Linked DNA regions of Homo sapiens. The protein of the gene in region 1 purifies or fractionates together with the protein of each later gene. This does not show direct contact. Each region holds a gene or a part of one and is shown on either strand. Other genes may lie near its edges.

Region 1 (8,066 bases):
TGGAAACATATACCTGACTCAAAAGCTCTTTGTCCAGGAGTCCTCAATGGCTAGTCCCAGCCCTCTTGCATGAGGCCCAAAATCACACTTGCCCATAACAGAATTAATCATAAATTCAGTCATAGTGAATTCACTTCATTACTTTTTGTAAATAACGAATACTAACAATTCTAAATGAAACTTCATCTACTCTACTTTCTGAATCACCCACAAAGTATTAAACCATAAAAATTAGTCATTTCTATAATTCCTTTGAGTATATCCATTTTCATGTCTATTCTCCTGAGGGAAAAAAAAAAAAAGACCTTACCGATAGCATATGCTTCTCTGCTCCCAACAAACTCTCCTTTTGAGTTTTACTCTATCACTTCAGAACTTCAATTCTATGCCACAGCAGTTCCTGAACTTCAGTGGCAATCATATCAGGATTTTTCTCTTACAGTGGCTTAAGTGACTATGTTACACTGTGTTTTGTACAAGATACAGGTGACTTCTAGATCTCATCTAGCTCTAAAATGCTGCACGAGTGTAGGATTCAAAGCAAATCTAGAAAATATTCTTAGAATATGGAGTCGGATGTTGTTTTCTACGGGCCATACCATTACTACTTATTTTATAAGCCATTTTATCTTAACAATTTTCTGAAGTTTTTTAATGTTTCCATTCCCACTAACAATTTCATGTCTTGTAAACTGTTCAAACCAGTAATATATGTACTATTTTGTATCTTTGCTAATATCACTTAGAAAAAATTAGAACCTGATAAGCTCAAGTTTCATAAATAATGTAAACACAAGATAAAATGTCACAGTGCCAGGCTGAGACAGGAGAATGGCGCGAACCTGGGAGGCGGAGCTTGCAGTGAGCCGAGATCGCACCACTGCACTCCAGCCTGGATGACAGAGCGAGACTCTGTCTCAAAAAAAAAAAAAAAAAAAAGTTACAGTGCCAAGATAACTGCCTTATGAGTTAAAACTTTTAAATGAATTCTGCAGTCTCTAATAAGAGTTCACTCAGTATTAAGCCATCCACATAGTAAATAACAATACTGCTTAATTTTTACAATAATACTGTATGTCCTTGTGAATGTCTGAATAGAAATATATTAACTATCGGCCAGGCGCGGTGGCTCACGCCTGTAATTCCAGCACTTTGGGAAGCCGAGGCGGGAGCATCACGAGGTCAGGAGATCAAGACCATCCTGGTCAACGTAGTTAAACCTCGTCTCTACTAAAAATGCAAAAATTACCCGGGCGTGGTGGCGCGCGCCTGTGACCCAGCTACTCGGGATGCTGAGGCAGGAGAATCGCTTGAAACTGGGAGGCAGAGGCTGCAGTGAGCCGAGATCGCGCCACTGCACTCCAGCCAGGCGACAGAGCAAGACTCCGTCTCAAAAAAAAAAAAAAAGAAAATTAAAGAAAAGAAATACATTAACTATCAATAGCAAGTAGAAACCAGTGTAGGGATTGTAAATGATTATACTGCTACTCTTCAGTATAATCAACACACATTGCAGGCCTCCTCTTTAGGGGTATTCCACAAGTTACCAAACTTCCAATATTTTAACGTGATTTTAGGAAAAACTCCATTTCTTACATTAGGAGACATAAATCTCCATAAGACTGGTTTCTATACAACTGCAATAACGTTGTAAATTATCTAAGTTTTGATTTGGGGGAAGAGGAAAAACCCTAAGAACGAAGTACCATGGTTTTCTGTGTTAAATTCTAGAAAGCTATCAAATGTTTAGGATTAAAGCACTACAGTAGACATTTTTTATCACTATGGTTCTAAGACATTAAAATACTTTTAAAATGCTGGTTGAAAATCATATTCTCAAGCACAGAAAAATTAACTGTATTCCAGAGCATTTCCTTGTTTATCTCCTTACCAAGCCTAAAACTCAACTAATCCTTCTTTCAAACAGCTGGCAAACTCCCTTTTCTGAGAGGAGTGACTCATAAGTTATAGGAAATCCACAAAAACTACGATTTTTTCCCCCAACAAACTTAATAACAGGCACAGAAGGGGCGGGGGGGGGGGGGGGCGGAAGGCCAGAAAGAGAACAGACAGAGAAGAGCATTCAGTCTGTTTACTCCAAGGGCGTCACACCGTGCCAATATCCAGAGCTTCCTAAAAGCAAATGTTCAAACTGCAGTTTCTGGACACACTGTCCTAGAAGTTGAACAGATCCTTCAAGCCCATGCACCAAGAAATTCTGAAAATAAATAACTAGGTACTGCAAACCTACTGCACTCCCATCACAGAAATCTTTCAAATTACAAATCCCCTAATTAGGCGCGGAAAAGAACACCGCACTCTTCCCTAAGAAAACCGACACCTCGTTGACCAAAGAGAAAGGAAAGCAAGTTCATCTCCAACATCCAAACCACAAAGCCAGGTTTCTACTAAATAAAGTCCTCAAATACACTCTAATCTGAGATGAGGTAAGGAAGGCTGTGTAATGGTTCTCCTTGCCTGTTGGGAGGGGCAAAGGTTGGCATTCTAGGACAGCAGCTACTCTGCCACATGGGCCTGGTCCTCGGTAATTCCAAGCGTCCCTTCTGCCTCTCCCTTCCCAGAGCAGATGCTTCACCAGCTCCAAAATCCGCCCGACGTTCTTGCCGCCTGGAGGCCCCCACGTTCCCCTCCAGGCTTGGCCTCCCACGCTCGCCCTCGTTCCTGCGACTCTCGGTCCCCGTCGACACCAAAGGAGGAGGCCGCCAAGGCATCCCCGCTGCAAGCCCGCTACCCGCCGACTCACCTGGTCCCCCCTACGTTCAGTTGGACGATCTCGCCGCTGCCGGCCGCCGCCGCGGGGAAGCTGCCGCAGTGCCCTCCCGCCATCTCCGGCGGCTCCGGACGCGCTCGCCGCCCTCCTTCCCCAGCCGGGACCGCCGAGCCCGGGGCTGTAGCCCGAGGCAGCGGCGACGGCTGCAGGGCCAGCGGGGCGGCGGCGGCCGGAGGGCGGGGGGTGCACGGGGCTTCCCCCACCTTCCCGGCGGCCGGGCGGGGCTCGCTAGCTTCTGCCCCTTCCCGGGTCAATCCTGCGGTGCACAAGGGCGGCCCGGCCTCCACCTTTCGCGGCCTCCAGGCCGCCGGGCCGCCCGGGCCTCTTCTCCGTGCTCCGCTGCCACCGACGCCGCCGCAGCCTGCCTGGGAGGAGGGGTCACCGTTCGGGACAAAATACCGCAGCGCTCACGCTTCGCCCGCCACTGCCGCCTAGAATGAGGAGGAGGAGGAGGAAGGAAAGGTCAGGGAGGAGCTTCCCAACGCCGCGGGGCTGGCGCGTAGGGAGGCTAGGGGAATGTGCTCCTGGCCAGCCGCCTGCCCACGCGGGATTCCATTTCGTTCCTCCTCCCCACGCGATCCCAGCCCCTTTCCCTTTTACATTTCAGATTTTCTAAAACGAGGAAGCTGATTCGCAGATTGAGGGCAGATCTGGGCAAACGATCTACGGATCTTTATGACCCACTTTGTCAACATGGATTGGGAAAGGAAAAACTAATCCTAGAGGTAGTAAAAGTTGATGCCTAAATGTAGACAGTGCAAATGCAGGGAACATTTGGAGATTTTAAAACCTTACAGCGTTTACCCCAGAAAACTGCTTACTTTACCCTCTTCAATTTAATCCCCAATCTCCCAAGCAGTTTTTTTGTTTTGTTTTTTGCTTTTGTTTGTTAAGCAGGAAGGAAACCAAAGGACAAAAACCCCTAGACTGTGTAATGCCCAGCAACCTATTTCTGGAATATAGTAAGCACTCAACTAATGTTAGACACACGCAGAAAACACACAATTTTATGCGCTTGTTTATTTATTTGTTTTTGCTTTAAACGGTATCTATTCAAACCCAAAACCTTAGTGGCTATTAAAATATTTTTTAAATCGGAATACTATAATACTTGATGCCCTGCTAACAAAGACTAACAAAGATAGTGCGTTATGTTTCAGAGGTCATTAGTTTGTGGTACTAAATTCTTAACATGAATTGTTTTGTCATAGTTGTATCATAATAATTCAAACTGATAATGTATCTGATGTTAAGTTTTTATTGTCATTGTCATAATTTTTACCAAAAAAATAAAAAATAGCCTCTGGCAAGCATACTAATGTTGTGATATGCTCTATCTAGATTCGACTTGAAAGATGTTAATAGTACATATGGATGTAAGATAAGTATTATTTCTCCCAGTTGATGATAAGCTTAATAATAGCTAATTTGTGTTTATCATATACCCGGTGGTTTAGATATTTTGTCATCTTTCTTCGTCACAACTAATGTTATAATTATTTTTAAAAAAGGAAATTTGGGAATGAAAATGATCAAAAAAACTTGCTCAAAATTACATAGGTAGCAAGTGGGATGGCAGGAATTTCAAGGCAAGCAGCTTGAATTCAAGGCCACTGTTCACCATCCTTACCACTGCATTGTACCTCATTATCTTCACTTTAGACAGGGAAGATGAGTAACAGTTCAGATTAAAGCAGCAGCAACTAGGAATCTAAACCAGGGTGTCCAATCTTTTGGCTTTCCTGGGCCACATTGGAAGATGAATTGTCTTTGGCCACACATAAAATACACTAACACTAACGATAACTGATGAGCTGAAAAAAAGAAAGAAAGAAAGAAAGAAAGTTTATGAATTTGTGTTGGGCCACATTCAAAGCTTTCCTGGGCTGCATGCGACCCATGGGGCTGCAGGTTGGACAAGCTTGCTTTAAACAATGTTAACTGCCTTTGCCCTAACACATAATATCTGGTTCTATCAGGATCTGAAACTTTGCTTTAAAATTTGCAGCGAAGATTTAAGTGGTAAAAGGGCCATTTAATTTTCCTTAGGTCCAAACCTTGGAAGAATATGAAAGAATAGTTGCTAACAGCCTTTGAATCCAAGAGGCAAGTTGGAGTTAGAATAAGGCCTTATAAATTTAAAAATATATATATTTGTGAAAGGCTTCTTATTTTTCCTGAAATAAATGAAACCGTGTTCATTTTATTATACTGTACTTAAAAATTAGGAGAACATCTCTTCAAGAGAAGGAAAAGTTCTCAGTATTTTATAAGACAAATGGTCATGACTTCTTGATATGTCCAGAACAATATAGAGATATCTGAGGCATTTCTTGCTCATAAAACTTAAAGTTAGGGTGTGACTTAATTTTTAAGAATAAATTGGAACACCATTAACAAAAACAAATAGCAGAATGAGAAAAGATATTTGCAACATATATCAAATGATTGAAAATATATAATATCTGATCATATATGTATATATTATTCTACAAATAAATTGAGAAAACAAGTAATGAAAAATATGGAAAGAATATCAACAGCCAATTGATAAAAACACTAAAATGCTTATTAAAACAACAGAAAGCTGGGTGTAGTGGCTCACACCTGTAATCTCAGCACTTCGGGAGGCCGAAGTGGGTGGATCACGAGGTCAGGGGTTCGCGACCAGCCTGGCCAATATGGTGAAACCCCGTCTCTGCTAAAAATACAAAAATTAGCCAGGCGTGGTGGTGCGCGCCTGTAGTCCCAGCTACTGGGGAGGCTGAGGCAGGAGAATCGCTTGAATCTGGGAGGCAGAGGTTGCAGTGAGCTGAGATCGCACCACTGCACTCCAGCTGGGACGACAGAACGAGACTCCATCTCAAAATAAATACATAAATACATAAATAAATGAATAAAACAAAAAATGTATTTTTACTCATGAGATTAGCAAAAATTAAGAGAGGTTTGATAAAATTCAAGGACAGTGAGAGTGTGAAATGATCATACTCATGCATTGCTGATTAAATTATGAATGGGTACAGAGTTTCTGGAGGGCACCTCAAGAATATCAGCATTTTAAATGTAAATACCCTAGACCCAGCACTTTTCTTCTAAAAATATATCCTATACACATTTTGCTCAATTGGCAAAGGTACATGCAAAGAAGTAAGTGCATATTCATGGTAGTAGTGTTATAATAGCAAAAACATGGAATATTCAACAACAAGGGAATAATTTTTAAAATTATGTTGGAAGCTATTACTATTTTGGGGGCAAATTCATGTGAACTGACCAGAAATGATCTCCAAGTATATGATTTAGTGGGGAAAATAATCAGATTACAGAATAATACATTATGAGTACAATCTCATTCATTTAAATAATGGAAAAACTAAAATCATGTGTATATCCACTTATATTTCTATATAAAAATACATATTAAACTACGAAGAAACATAACCTCTAGACAGATCATTAGAATCAGTGAGGAGAAGGTAGCAGTGGTGAATGGACAAAACCTTTTACCCCTATGGTCTTTCATATTGTTTAACTGTTTACAGTGAGTTTTCTTTCATGTACTACCTGTATGTATGTATGAATGTGTAAATAAATAGAGTAGATACATTCAAGGTTGTCCCCATGACAGCTTTTTAAAGTTTATGTTATTTTAATATTTAGGCAATACAAAGTAAATAAAACATTATTTAAATAATATTACCTTCTTTAGTGACTATATTGAATTTGTGATGTCTACTCGACCAGTCCTTGTCAAACTATCTCAGGTAAGAACTAGTTCAATTTCCAATTTATGGGGTGATTTAGTCAGGACTCTCTAGAGGGACAGAACTAATGGAATATATATATGTTTTATAATATATGTATTTATAAATATATATTATATATATGGAATATATATATGTATATTCCATTAGTTCTGTGATGGGTAAACTCCCCTTTATATATATATAGCTCGGGCGGGCACTGTGGCTCACACCTATAATCCCAGCACTTGGGATGCCAAAGTGTGCGGATCACCTGAGGTCAGGAGTTCGAGACCAGCCTAGCCACATGGTGAAACCTTGTCTCTACTAAAAACACAAAAATTAGCCAGGCGTGATGGCACGCTCCTGTAATCCCAAGTACTCGGGAGGCTGAGGCAGGAGAATCACTTGAGCCTGGGAGATGGAGGTTGCAGTGAGCTGGGATTGCAGCACTGCACTCCAGCCTGGGTGACAAGGCAAGAGTCCATCTCAGAAAAAAAAAAAAAAGTTTCCAACCTCTTAGTCTCATTTTTGTGCTTATTTAATTGCAGACTATTCACAGTTTGTGGATGGGCATCAATTCATGAACCACACTTAAGTGGCCACACTTAAAGTAGTGTTTATTATCACTTAAGTAGCACACTTAAAGTAGCATTTACTTGAAGTGTGGTTATACTAAAAGTAGTACACTAAAAGTAGTAACCACACTTAAAGTAGCGTTGTATTAGATATCCAAGTAAGATGTTGAGTAAGCTGTTGTATAAAGGACCTAGAAGTTTCAGAAAGAGAACTAAGCTAAAAATTCTCTTATTTTTACTGAAATAAAACTTTGGGAATGAGTAGTATATAGATGGCTGTTAGAGCCATGAGACTGCCTAAAATCATAAGGAGGTGAGTGTAGAATGAGACAAAAATAGAAATCAGAATGGAGCCCTTGACTATCCAATATTAAGAGACTGGGGAGGAGTTCCAGTGAAGGAAACTAGAAAGGAGTTTCAGCCAGATGGGAGGAAAACCAAGGGAGCATGGGGTCCTATGAGATCACAGGACAAGTAAGATAAGAACTAAGAATTGACTTTGGATTTAGTGACATGAAGAAAAATAGTGTGGTGGAAGTAAGGGCAGTTCTAGTGCAGAAGTGGGAGAAAAAGCATAATTGGTGGGGTTTTGCTATAAAGAAGAGCTAAGAAACAGACAGTAGCAAGCTAGGGAAGTAAGGCCAAGAGAATGTTTTGTAAAGATGTTTTAAAAAAAAATAACCACGTTGATGAAAAGCAATCAGTAGGTAGCAAAAATCTGACCATTCAAGAGAGGCAGAAGATAATTATTAGAGTAACGTCTTTGAGTAAATGAGGAAGATATCTAGGCATCAAGTAAAGATAAAGAAACTGAGCCACAAGGAGGATCAGTAATTTGCCCAGTGTTCGTTGTTGCTGCTATTATTGTTATCTTCTAACCCACTCTATATTTAGATATTATTATTATTATTATTATTATTTTGAGACAGCGTCTCACTCTGTTGCCCAGGC
Region 2 (4,541 bases), on another chromosome or scaffold:
CTGGGCCACGTCACCTGCCTACGCAGGATGGAGCTGGAGTGTGCCTTTTCTGACCATGGTAGTCTCCGTCGACTCCGAGTTGAGGGCCTGTCACACAGTCACTCACTCACTCTGTAGATTGAAATCTGGGCCTCAATTCCTATAGAACAGGCTACCCCTCCTCCCTGACAGCACAATCTAAAAAGAGCAGCAAGGTAGTGGGTTCCACATTCCCTCTTACACAGGATTGCATGTGTGAGACAGAAAGTGAGACCAACAGTAAATAAATAAATACATAAATAAATAAATAAAAAATAAACCCACTGGCATGTTTTCACTGAGAAAATGTCTGCAGATGGCCACCCTGTGGGGTGGGTATTATCCCCTGTGTGGTTTCTTTTTTGGTTTGAGGGGCTTTGTACTCAGTTATGAAATCATTCTCACCACCACCACCACCCCCCTTCATCTGTTATGGTGACATCTCCAAGTAATGTTTAAAACCAAAGAGTACATTTTATTTTAAAATTAAAGAGTTCAGTAGCTAAAAAAGCAGCAGTACCCCCTGTTCGGAATGCCTTGGAATCTACTTTCCCCAGTTTAAATAGTTGGAAAGTCACCATGAACCTCGGATGCTCTTCTTGGCAGTAGAGAAAAACTGCCGTAACCACAGCTCAGAAATATACACACCCCTCAATGGAACTGGCTTCTTGCCTTCTGTTGTGAGCATACATCACAAGTCAAAATGAATTAAATACAAATCCAGTTTGCAATGGTCCGTCACTAAGCTGCCTCCCAGGAGCGAGCCGGCAGCATGTGGGTTGGAAGGGGGCCCACAGCGTTCCCTGCGCTGTCTTGAATTGGACTGCAGTCTGTCTGACAAACCAGCCCCACAAGGGAGTCCACAGCCTGGTGGCTCTTTGACTGGGATGGGGTAGGGGGTTGCCTTGAGCAACTGTGGAAGCCTAGCCAGGGGCCCAGAAGCACAGGCCTCCTCAATCCAGGCCTCTACAGTCAATCAAATGTCAAGGAATCGTCACCAGAAGAAACTTTTCATAGGTAAATAGAAGCAGGGCCGAGAGCTGACAGTGGGGATTTTCCAAAGAAATGGAAACAAACGTACACAGGCCACTCACCAGAGACTATAGCCAGCAAGAAACAGGAAACGTATCAGGTTAATATTTTAATCTGTACATCACATTTTTTTTGCAAACCATTACATTTTTAAATTAACTTTTTCTTGCAAAATATTCATTTCATTTTTTCCAAGAAAATCTTATAAAGGCAAAAATAAAATTTTATTTTGGCAAATGTCATGAAGTCGATACTGGCAGCATATGGAGTTAGTTAAAAATAGACAACAACTGCTAGATATATTCAAAATTCTATTTTTTTTTCTGAGCATAGTCAAAGAGAAATTTTCATTTAAAGTGTGGCTCCACCCAATGGAGGTTTTCGTTGTTGTTGTTTTTTCCATTTAAACGTCATTGTTTATATGCAGAATAATATAAGAAAACAACTTAAATAAAGGGCCACAAACACTGCACCTGGCTTGGTAGCCCCCCTCCTCATGTGGGGCTGGAAGTCAAATCAAAGTCCTGCCATTATGGCCCTGCTGGCGGCAGGCCATGAGGGATGGTGGGGGCACACTGCTGCCCTCCTGCCACCAGACCTGAGTCCCAGGGAAGCCAATCCGGGGTTCTCCAAGGGCAGGCAGCAAAGGTTCCCATCATGGCCTGGTTAGAGGGAAGGGATTTCTAGGTAGATGTCACCCAGTGTGGAGTTTATTGCTACGATACAATGAAAGTTGCTTCCTCTCACCTTTTCTGTATTTCAATGTGTACTGTTAAAAATGAAAGCAGGCTGGGCGTGGTGGCTCACGGCTGTAATCCCAACACTTTGGGATGCTGAAGCGGATGAATCACCTGAGGTCAGGAGTTCGAGACCAACCTCACCAACATGAAGAAACCCCCGTCTCTACTAAAAATACAAAATTAGCCGGGCGTGGTGGCACATGCCTGTAATCCTAGCTACTTGGGAGGCTGAGGCAGGAGAATCACTTGAACCCAGGAGGCAGAGGTTGCAGTGAACCGAGATCGTGCCATTGCACTCCAGCCTGGGCAACAAGAGTGAAACTCCATCTCAAAAAAAAAAAAAGATAGCAAACTGCTTTTTTCTTTCTGACAAGAGCCTTTTGCTGGAGGAAGCCTGGGGGCAGGTTGTGGGCCCCAGTCCTCTTGAACACACTGTTGCCCCTAAGCCAAACCCAAGGGGCAAGGCACAGACTTGGGCTCCACGTGTGATCCTCGTGGAGTTTCACACAGAGCTGGTCATCAGGTCAGGGACAGCTGATCTCTGCAGCCAAGGGCCCCTCTTCTCCCAGACAGCACGCCAACCAGCCTCTTGCTGGAGTCTACTGGGAACACCTCTTTAAATCTCACTTTCTCCTGAGGTCATTGGAAGTTGGACTAGCCTCGGCTTGCCCCGCCCTTCCTGCCCCCACAACACCTGTCACCCAGAAGTACCTGAATCTGTACGTGCAGCTGCAAAGTCCTGCATCCTCAACCTTCCTGCCACTCAGCCCTTGAGGGGAACATTAGAAAATAGATTCCGATTCTAAAATACAGTGTATTTTACAGTGTATATCAAAAGTGCCTTTGCCATTCATATGTAGAGAGGAGTCTGAGCTAAACTAGTGGGTGCATATTAGGGCCTGGCCTGTGGTGAACACCCGCAGTCGGTAAGCTGCTCCTTCCTCCGGCCGGATTCCCTGCTCAGCTGGAAGGGGTTTCCTTGGGGGCAGAAAGGTCATCTCCTTGGAGGAAGCTGGTTCCACTGGGCCCCTGGCTCCAGGCTTCTTTGCATGCTGGGTCACGGGTCAGTCACTGCCTGGGCTGGCAAAAAGCACAGGAGACAGTGAGAGGCTGGCATCCAGGGAGCAGGCACGTCTGCACACACATGATGGAATGGCAGATAGGCGGACAGGCAGAGCAGCAGAGCAGGGGGCTCTGGCAATGCGGCCGCTGCTGGGGGACCCTCAGCTTCCAGGACACATGGGGCTCTTGCCCCACCCTCCCTGCACCCCTATTCCACTGCTAGACACATGCTGGCCCCTAAATTGGGTCCCCATCCCGACAGGGCAAAGACTCTAATAAAGGTGCAGTCTGGCCCTGCCCTTCATTCTTTCAATGTGGGTAGCGCTCTTGGCCTCTGTGGGCCTTGTTTTTCTAACCTAAAAAACATGGTGGTCATACCCACTTCTTAACAAGGATGCTTTGAGAGTAAGAAGAAATGCAGTACTCCAAAGAGTATAATAGGCCAATCTTACAGCCATGGGGGCACCAAAACCCAGGAGGAACAGAACCTCTCTCCTGCCTCTCTGTGACTGAGCGCTGTTACTGTGCTCAGATCTCTAGGAGAAAGCCACACCCTCAAATGTGGCCTTCACAATGGGCGTGGCTAGAGCACTTCCCTATGGCTCCTCAACCACGGGGCCTCTACTCCACACCTCCTCAGAGCCTGGCCCAAGGAGGCTGACCTCTTCCTCTCATGCTCAGGCTGGCGGGGACCTGCTGACTCTGCTGTGAGGCACGGGGAGCACCCAGGATAGACACCTGCCAAAAAATCATGCTTCGCTCCCTGCAGCACAAATACTCTCTCCCTCCTTTCACTTCTTTCTCCAAACACCTAGAGCTGCTCGGGGCGGCCCAGATGAACCCATGAGTGGTGATGGGGAACAAAGGCTCTGAACTCACATCAAAGGGGTTCAAACCCCAGCACTTAACAAGCTGCGATTCCTTGCGCATATCCCTCAAGGCCTCTGAGCTTTTGTTTTTTCATCTCTAAAACGGGGAGGGGGGGGGGAATATCTTCATAGGGTTGTTGTGTGGATCGAAAGAGATACTTAGCACAATGCCTGGCACACAGCAGGCACTCAACAATGTTAACCACAAGTATACGTAAAGGAAGGAGAGGGGAAAGCCCTGCAAAATGATAGTGGGATGGGATGTCAGGGTAAGGACTGCCCAGACTGGTAGTCTGACCTTCCCCTGTCCAGGTGAACCGCTGGGCTCAAAAGCAACAGGCCCAGGCCAAGAACTCACTTGAGACTGGACCAGATGCCAGCCTCCTGTTTCAGGGCTCCCTCCTCATCCCACACTGCCTCTCATCACTAGATGCCCACATGGGGAGAACTTGGTAGGGTTGGTGCCAGAGCTTTCTGCCTGGCTGAGGGCCAATTTCACATTGCCCTGGGCTTCCCTTTCTCTCCCTCTTAAAGTGCCCAGTGACCAAAAGGGCAGTCCCAGTCTCTGCGCTGACACCAATTCTTTGTGACCTGGAGTGAGCCCCAGCCCCTCACTGGGCCTCAGTTTCCTCATCTGTAGAACTGGACTTTTCCCAATCTTACAGTTCTTCAATTTCTTTGGCCAAAGCCCTGAAAGGCCAAGATCTAACTCTTCCTTTCCAGCCCCCCAAGGCTGGCAGTGTGGTCTGCACTGGTTCTCGGGCATCAGGGTGCCCTACTGAGGAGAGCAGGGGATGGGGGCACAGTTCCGGTTCTAGAG

The links.
Region 2: the proteins of KCTD3 (region 1) and PLEKHA7 purify together in Homo sapiens (affinity purification with mass spectrometry; 2 studies listed by BioGRID and IntAct, with this or other methods). This does not show direct contact.

Annotation. Positions count from the first base shown.
Region 1 is NC_000001.11:215,562,467-215,570,532, reverse strand, and holds the start of KCTD3 (BTB/POZ domain-containing protein KCTD3), read right to left. Parts: upstream 3,230-8,066; 5' UTR 2,848-3,229; coding exon 2,765-2,847; intron 1-2,764. UniProt on the Homo sapiens protein: Accessory subunit of potassium/sodium hyperpolarization-activated cyclic nucleotide-gated channel 3 (HCN3) up-regulating its cell-surface expression and current density without affecting its voltage dependence and kinetics.
Region 2 is NC_000011.10:16,776,151-16,780,691, forward strand, and holds the end of PLEKHA7 (pleckstrin homology domain-containing family A member 7), read right to left. Parts: intron 2,871-4,541; coding exon 2,848-2,870; 3' UTR 1,147-2,847; downstream 1-1,146. UniProt on the Homo sapiens protein: Required for zonula adherens biogenesis and maintenance. Acts via its interaction with CAMSAP3, which anchors microtubules at their minus-ends to zonula adherens, leading to the recruitment of KIFC3 kinesin to the junctional site.